Regions from separate parts of the Homo sapiens genome. Here region 2 is linked to region 1. The links come from fine-mapping of genetic effects on gene expression. Tissue or cell type: whole blood. Region 1 holds a variant in brackets; the other region holds the start of a gene. All regions are shown on one strand. Distances are between the middles of the regions.

Evidence for each region. PIP is the estimated chance that this variant, and not a neighbour inherited with it, causes the effect.
Region 2: ERCC5 starts here. The variant in region 1 is fine-mapped to the expression of ERCC5 in whole blood (Lepik 2017, PIP 0.95).

What each region holds. Positions count from the first base shown.
Region 1 is chr13:102,707,952-102,712,117 of GRCh38, forward strand. No RefSeq gene overlaps it. Among named protein-coding and RNA genes, the nearest start is that of METTL21C, 15 kb to the left of the region's middle. The variant G/A (reference allele first, on the strand shown) is at 2,237.
Region 2 is chr13:102,843,476-102,847,641 of GRCh38, forward strand. ERCC5 (ERCC excision repair 5, endonuclease) reads left to right here and starts at 2,557. Exons shown (of 15, transcript NM_000123.4): 1 at 2,557-2,879. The coding sequence starts at 2,792. The region is part of intron 9 of BIVM-ERCC5 (BIVM-ERCC5 readthrough); the gene reads left to right. RefSeq lists enhancers at 1,487-2,311, 1,896-1,945, 2,156-2,945, 2,312-3,134 and a silencer at 3,296-3,345.

The DNA.
Region 1 (4,166 bases):
CCTGTCCCAGAATGTGTTGATTCTAGTCTGAAATGCATGCCAAGTTATCCCAACCACTTAAAACCATCAACATTAGAAGATAGCCAGGAAACGGACTGAGGCCCAAATAGAACCTCTTTTTTTAGCTTTCCTGGCAAAATAGGAGCTGTAGGTTCATAGATCATTTATAAAAACTTTGACTCCATCAAACTTACTAATCATTTTATTTAAAATAGAGCTCATCTCTACAGACATTCCTTATTTAGAGTATAACATTTTCCATTCTCTTGGTTTAATTATTTTATAAGTGACAAGCTGGGCTAGACGTTTTCCTTCCCAGACATTTATTTTGTTCTCTGGAAAATATTTCCTGCCTCTCTTTACCTAGATAATTCTTACTATTTCCTGCCTCACAACTAGGCATCACCTGCATCAGGTCCACTTTAATTATCTGAGAATCTGCCTCTGCCTCCTACCCACTGGACTGTAAGGAACATGAGGGTTGAGACCTTGTACCTGGTCTGGTTACTGGCATGGAAAAAATGCTCATTAAATGTTTAAAGAATGAATGAATGTACGAATGAACACTGGGAACAACTTCTTTTTATTTCTTCAACAGAATTTAGGTCACACAAGTTTTAAAAATTCATGCAGATCAGTTTCTTTTTAAGTAGAGAGATGCTTAATACTCTTATACTCACTCCTTTAGAAAAGATTGAACTGCTATATACCGATCACTTTTTCTCACCAAGATTTTTCTTCGCTAAATTTAAAACATATAGAAAGTTATAAAACTAATATAATAAATACCAAAATTCCCACCACATAGAATTTTAACTTAATATTTTCTCCTATTTGCTTCCAGTTATTTTTTAAAGATATAGATACAAGTAGAGGTCCCTTCCAACAGATACACTGTGTCAGTCATGCACTTACCACCTTTCAGCTCCAAATTCACCCTTTTTTGCCTGCTCTATGCAAACAGATGTGGGCCCTTTCAATACTTTGCCAGCTGGAACAATGCTAAACTTTGTCAGTAGACTAGACAGAAGGAGAGGGTTTTGCCCCTTGGTTCAGGTGTGCTCCTGCAGACTGGCAGCTTCCCCAGTGTCCAGCTCCTTTAGAGCACATGGTTTCCCCAGGACCCAGCTCCTGCAGAGCTCATAACCTCTCTAGTTCTCAGCCTCTGCAAGGCATGGCAGCCAGCAGCACCCAGCAGCAGCAACTCACCTCCCTACCAGCATCCTTGAGTAGTTTCGTAGCTCAGCCCTTCCCTACAAGCAGCTTTCCCAGAACCGTCTGGGGCAGATTTCTGACTAATGTGACTAGCACAGCACCACAGGGACTTCTCCACAATCCAGTGAGCCATGGCCACATCCTCTCAATAGGCTCTGGATCTCAGCCCTTTTGAGGGGACAGGCAACTTCTATCTCAGACTTAAGCATAGAGGCTGCTGCTTATATTTGTTATTTCCACACTTTTTAGGGTTCTTGTTTTACTAGTCAATGCCTCATTATTCCAATCCCTTGTTATACCTAATTCTTTTATATTCAACTTTCCCTGTTTAAATTACTGTCTGGTTTCTTTCTCCTGATTGGACCCAAGCAGAAATAGATACAAAGGGTCCTTTCAATAGGAATATAAAATTTATATTTTTCTTGTAAGGTATAAAATTAATCAGTATAGCTGCTGTAGCTTCTTCTACATCTAGAGGTATGATAGGAACTGATATGCCTGTACTCTCTGTCCTGCAAGTGCCAGAGGGGATGATTCTGATTGGGAAAAGCCACATGTAGAGACATGCTAGCACCCTTGGAGATTCACACACTCCTGGTTCCTTTGAGCTTCAGGTCATGGTGACCAATGATTATGCCAAATGGGGTCCCTGGCAATGGGAGACACCCTCCACCCAAACACATGCCCAGAAGTGTTGAACTTGTCACTTCCCTGTTGTGACTACCAGGCATACTCCTTCTGAAAATCAGCTATCAGCTTGGTCTTGTCCTCTAATTGAAACTGCACACCTGACCTATAAAGGCCTTGTGACTCTCTGGTCTGTTTAAACTCAGACTCAATCGCTAACATGGTGAGAAGGGTCCAACAAGCCTAGGCTGGAAAATGGAATTTGGACAGCCTGGCCCCAGCAGCATCTCGGCTGTACACAAAACAGTGGGCACAAGCCCTCTGAGGGAAATTTTATCTCCTATTCACCACCTGAGGCGAAGCTGTGGCTCCATGGGGCCCTCACTTTACAGAG[G/A]TTCCCCTAAATGCATGGGCCTGGGTCACTGATGGTTTTTCCAAGCTGAACCCCAGTGGTGTCCCCTGAGCTGCTGTGACTACACAGATCCAAAAACAGATGTGAGCTGTCTGCTCAGAAGGCAGAATGCATGGCTGTTCTTGCAGGTCTGGCCAAGACTGCCCTTGATGCAACTTGCCCTATTTTTAGTCATTCTTGGGCTGTTGTCAACGGCTAAGCATTTGGTCAGCCACTTGGAAAACTACAGATTCCAGATGAACAGCATCCCGTTTGCAGGTCACAAACTGTGGAAACAAATCGTGACTGCTGAGAGAAACATCTGGGTCACTCACATAGATGGAAATGATCAAGGCCCCTTCTCTGATGAGACCGATTAGAGCCAAGCTGCCGGTGGAGCCTGCACTAAGCAGATGGCCACGTTGCTCTCTGGACCCATCGCTGTGCTGGATGTGGGAACGCACCCACCACTGTGGATGGCACAACGTGCAGGACTCCATGTTTATGATGCGGGGGCTCCCACTGGAGCTCCTGCCACAAGTTGACCTACTTGTCTCACAATGGTGTGGCCTCGTGGCAGGGATGCTTTCCCTGCTGCCGCCCACAGCCTGACCTTTGGGCCCTTCATGGGACTATGGTGGTGCCCTGCTACTCTTGACACCTTTTCAGGTGGTGGTGTTATTGTTCTAGTTCCATTAACCAACTCTGGCCACATCATTGTGGCCCTTGAAGATAATCTTTGCCATATTTTCAGCTCTGTGAACCACCAGCAAATAGCTACTTGATGGCCCTTTCTCTCCTTACCACCCACAGGCATCTGATGTTGTTGATCATTGGAGCAGCCTCCTAAAAACTTGATTTAAAAGATTTCTGACCGTATTCCTGGTCCACACTCCTTAGCCAGGTAGTTTGGTCATGTACGTGGCTCATTATTGACTGAAATGCCATTATAGGCCACACTAATAAAAGACACAAAGTTGACTTAAACAATTGGAAAAACATAATACGTTCTTGATAGGAGGACTTAATTCCTTAAGATGTAATTTCCCCCTTACTATATAAATTTGATGCAATTCCATTAAAAACGCTGATTTTGCCCTCTGGAGCTAGATTATAGGGTTTGTATTTTAAAAAAAATTAATAGGCTAGGCAAGGTGGCTCATGTTTATAATCCCAGCACTTTGGGAGGCCAAGGCAGGTGGATCACTTGAAGTCAGGAGTTCAAGATCAGCCTGGCCAACATGGCTAAACCTTGTCCCTACTGAAAATACAAAAATTAGCTGGGCGTGGTGGTGCACGCCTATAACCCCAGACACTTGGGAGGCTGAGGCAGGAGAATCGCTTGAGCCTGGGAGGCAGAGCCTGCAGTGAGCCAGGATCATGCCACTGCACTCCATCCTAGACGACAGAACGAGACTCTGTCTCAAAAAATAAATGAATAAATAAGTAAAATTAATAAACAAGACTATCAAAGAAAATTTTGGAAAAAGCGCAATGTGGGAGGCTAATCCCATCAGTTATTTAAAACATTATAAAACTTCTATATTCAAAGCTTCATGGTATTGATATGTGATAGAAAAACAGGCCAAAGTTCGCATTTGAATAGCACAACTGGAAACAGACATATATGGTTATGGAAGTTTAATAAATAGTGAAGGTATTATCTCAAGTCATGGGGAAGTTTTGAATTATTTCATAAATAATATTGAGCTATGTGGGAAAAAATACACAGGAATAAATTCCAAATGGATGAAATCTAAATGTAAATAATGTAGCTATAAGTACTAGAAGGCATGTGTTAATTTCTTTATGACTTGAGAATTAAGAAAACTTTTTAAACCATCATTAAAAATCCAAAACCAATGTCTAAAAGATGTACAAATTTTGGCTGAGCATGGTGGCTTACACCTGTAATCCGAACACTTTTGGAGAC
Region 2 (4,166 bases), 140 kb after region 1:
TTTCCTCTTTCTACAAAGACACCAGTCAAATTGGATTTAGGGCCTATCCTAATGGCCTCGTTTCAATTTAATCATTTTTAAACGCTGTGTCTTCAGATAGTCACATTCTGAGGTACTCAGGCTTCCACAGATGAATTTTGGAGGACACAATTCAGACCATAACACAAGGCAACATATGGTTCAGATGAGATCTGAATGAATGATCAGCCTAACCTCCAAGCAGATTCTTTCAGCAGACTGCAAGGTGCACTGGAGAGCTTTAGACTAGAGGCTTAAGAGGTCATTTAGGCAATATTTACAGAACTGCTAAGTGCCAGGATTGGGGGATGTAGCAGTCACGAAAATCGTTCTTCGTTTCAGTAAGTTTACAGTTTACCATGGGGAAGAGACAAATACTGAACAGGCAGTTATATTACTCTCAGTAAAATAACAACTGGGAACAGTTTCTGGGGATTACTTTACATATGGAGGAAATGCAAAAAACACTTTGTCAGGATTATTCCTGTAGCAAATTAGATGTGACTAGGTCAACCAAACATGGCCACTGTGAACCATCTTATTGAGCATAGAAGTGGTTTTGCTAAAAATGGATTTCTCCACGGAGCACGGTGGCTCATGTCTGTAACTCCAGCACTTTGGGAGACTGAGGCAGGAGGATTGTTTGAGACCAGTTTGGGCAACAAAGCAAGACCCTGTCTCAAAAAAAAAAAAATCAGGGCGTGGTGGTGGGGGCCTGTAATCTCAACTACTCGGGAGGCTGAGGCAAGAGCATCACTTGAGCCTGAGAGGTGGAAGTTGCAGTAAGCTGAGACTGCACTACTGCACTCTAGCCTGGGCGACAGAGTGAGACCCTGTCAAAAAAATAAAAAATAAAAAAATAAAAAAAATCAATTTCCCGTATACTTCTGTTATAAAGAAGTCTTTAAAAAATTGCCTGCTCCCTTAAGTCAGCCTTTTCACTGAGTTTAAATTTCGTTCCAATTTGAACAAATATGGATGCTAATACTATCCTTTATAGTTACTAGTGCTAAGTGCGTTGCATGTAACACCTTGAATACTTACTGAAGTCTGCAAGGTTGGTTTTATGCCCTGATTACTGATGGAGACACAAATTCTGAACAACTGTGACTTCAGGGATGCTAAACACCATAGTGAGGCACGATGCGGGGATTTGAATCTTGGCCTGAGGGTTCCAGAGCTGTGGCCTTTTCTGGGGTTACTCTGTTAATTGATTTCTAGTCCTTTCTGATCTACAAGCCGCGGCATTATAACTTTTAGATGCTGAAGAAAACTAAACTATATGTCAAGGATTAAGGCTTGTGAACCCCCAAAATTTGGGACAGGTCTCAGTTAATTTAGAAAGTTTATTTTGCCAACGTTAAGGACGCGCAGCTGTGACACAGCCCCAGGAAGTCCAGATGACATGTGCCCAAGGTGGTTGGGGCACAGATTGGTTTTATACATTTTAGGGAGACAGGAGACATCAATCAACATATGTAAGTACACTGGTTCCTTCCAGAAAGGTGGGGACAACTCGGAAGCAGGAAGGGCTTCTAGGTCACAGGTAGATGAGAGACAAAAGGCTGCATACGAGTTTCTGATAAGCCTTTCCAAAGGAGACAATCAGAATATGCATCTATCTCAGTGAGCAGAAGGATGACTGACTAGAATGGGAGGCAGGTTTTGCCCTGAGCAGTTCCCAGCTTGACTTTTCCCTTTTGCTTAGTAATTTTGGGACCCTAACATTTTCACAGGCTTTAAATTTTATTATTCTTTAGTTACTACGTGCTAGCATATAAATAAATAGTACAAAACCAAGAAGGCATCCACCTTTTGGTTGTCTCTTCACGTGTAAAACAACACTTTGTGTTAAGTATCTTCACACACGGCGGCGCAAAGGTAGAAACCGATACTAAAAAAGCGTGTAGAAAATAGTTCCCAGCCTGGGCAACACAGGGAGACCTCATTTCTACAAAAATAATTCGCCAAGCATAGTGGTGCGCACCTGCGGTCCCAGCTACTTGAGAGGCTGAGATGGGAAAGTTGCTTGAGCTCGGGCAGCAGGAGTTCCAGGCTGCAGTGAGCTAAGAATGCGCCACTGGACTCCAGTATGGGCGACAGCGTGAGACCCTGTCTCAAACAAAAACAAAAGCCCGTTACTCCACCAAGAAGGCGCTTTTGCACATTGTTTTAATGCTTAACGCCTTCAGGATGCCAGCGTGACGGAAGCAAGTAACCACCAAGGCATCACCACTGGCGCTAAACTTCTCACTTCCGGAGTGCTGCAAGCGCAGAAAATATACGTCATGTGCGGAGGCGGAGCTTCCGCCCTGCGCGTCGTATTAGACGGAAACCGAGCGGGCCCATTTTTCATGGGTTTGCGGACCCACCAGCGAAGGCGGGAGGTGTCGCAGGGACATCTTCTGGCTGTTTCCGTCGCCTGCGTGGCCCTTGCACCCCGGTCTTCCATTAGCGGCGCAGACGTTTGGGCCTAAGCGCTGGGCGAGGCGAGGCCCTGCCCCTCCCCGCCAACGGCCATTCTCTGGACCTGTCTTTCTTCCGGGAGGCGGTGACAGCTGCTGAGACGTGTTGCAGCCAGAGTCTCTCCGCTTTAATGCGCTCCCATTAGTGCCGTCCCCCACTGGAAAACCGTGGCTTCTGTATTATTTGCCATCTTTGTTGTGTAGGAGCAGGGAGGGCTTCCTCCCGGGGTCCTAGGCGGCGGTGCAGTCCGTCGTAGAAGAATTAGAGTAGAAGTTGTCGGGGTCCGCTCTTAGGACGCAGCCGCCTCATGGGGGTCCAGGGGCTCTGGAAGCTGCTGGAGTGCTCCGGGCGGCAGGTCAGCCCCGAAGCGCTGGAAGGGAAGATCCTGGCTGTTGGTATCCTTAACGCCGCGTTGGGACTTGGGGTGCAGGGATTCGGGGCTGGATTCCTCGCGGGGCTCTGCCTTGGGCACAGTGGCATCTGCAGGATGATGGTCTTGGGTCGGGGTCGGGGTCGCTATAGAATCTCTGTCACTAGGTTTTCTAAGTACAGTCGTCCCTCGGTATCCCCGGGGCTTTGGTTCCAGCCCCTCCTCCGTATACCACGATGTTCAAGTTCCTTCAACTCCCTTATATAATGGCGTGGTATTTGCATATAAACTACCCACTTCCGTAATCTTTTAAATCGTTTCTAGCTTACTTGTAATGCCGAATGCAATGTAAGTGATCTGTAAATAGTTGTTATACTGTATTTTAAAATTTTTTGTAGTTTTTATTGGTATGTTTTATTTATTTATTTTTTTCCATCGCAAATATTTTTGATCCGTGGTAGGTTGATTGCGGAATCGGGTGATGAGGCGGGCCGCCCTGTCTGCTTTCCCCAGCTTTGCAGTCTTAGCGGCCTGTGCATCCTGGTTTGTCACTTTGTGGCAGTGCTTTATGTTCCTCTCTGCCTTAGTTCTCTCATCTGCAAAGTAGAGGTGGTGATAGTATCTACACACAGGATTGGAATGAGGAATAAAGAAATTGCCTACATGAGAGAAGTTTAGTGCGATTAATACAGTAAATCTTAAAGTTATTATCCTGTCCGGGAGGTCAGTAAGGAGAGCAGAGTAGACTTCGACGATTAGTTTTGCTTGAGTCTTGCCCCATTTATGTTTCTTAGAGGAAGGATAGTGTGGACAGGTGTTTTACCCATTTTTTAAATTGACTTTTTAAGGACTATTGTTTCTGTACATGTTTGGCTGGTTTTGTTTGTCATTGGAATTAAATTCTTTTTTCATTAGCAAAACGTGATACTGCTTTTGAAATTTTTATCTTTTTCTTTGTTATGTAGTCATTTTTTTTTTTTTTTTGAGTATCTATTCTGGCTCAGAATCTGGTGATACCTTACACCAATTTCCTAAATGGGGATCTATGAGTCTAGGGGCTCGTGGGCTTGTGGAAAGAGTCCTGTAAATGATTGCGGGGGGATTGGGGACGGGAAATGGAGTGCAAGAGTGTGTGGGCGTTCAGCAAAGGAATCCCTGACTGTGGAGCCCTAATTCTTCAGTAGGTACAAAACTTATAAATAAAACGACATTGATAAGTTTTAAAACATAATGAGATTATCATTTTTTGCAAGTGAATAATCTTTAAATAAATCTGTAATTGATTTTTGGCTTAAAAGTTTTTATACAGGGT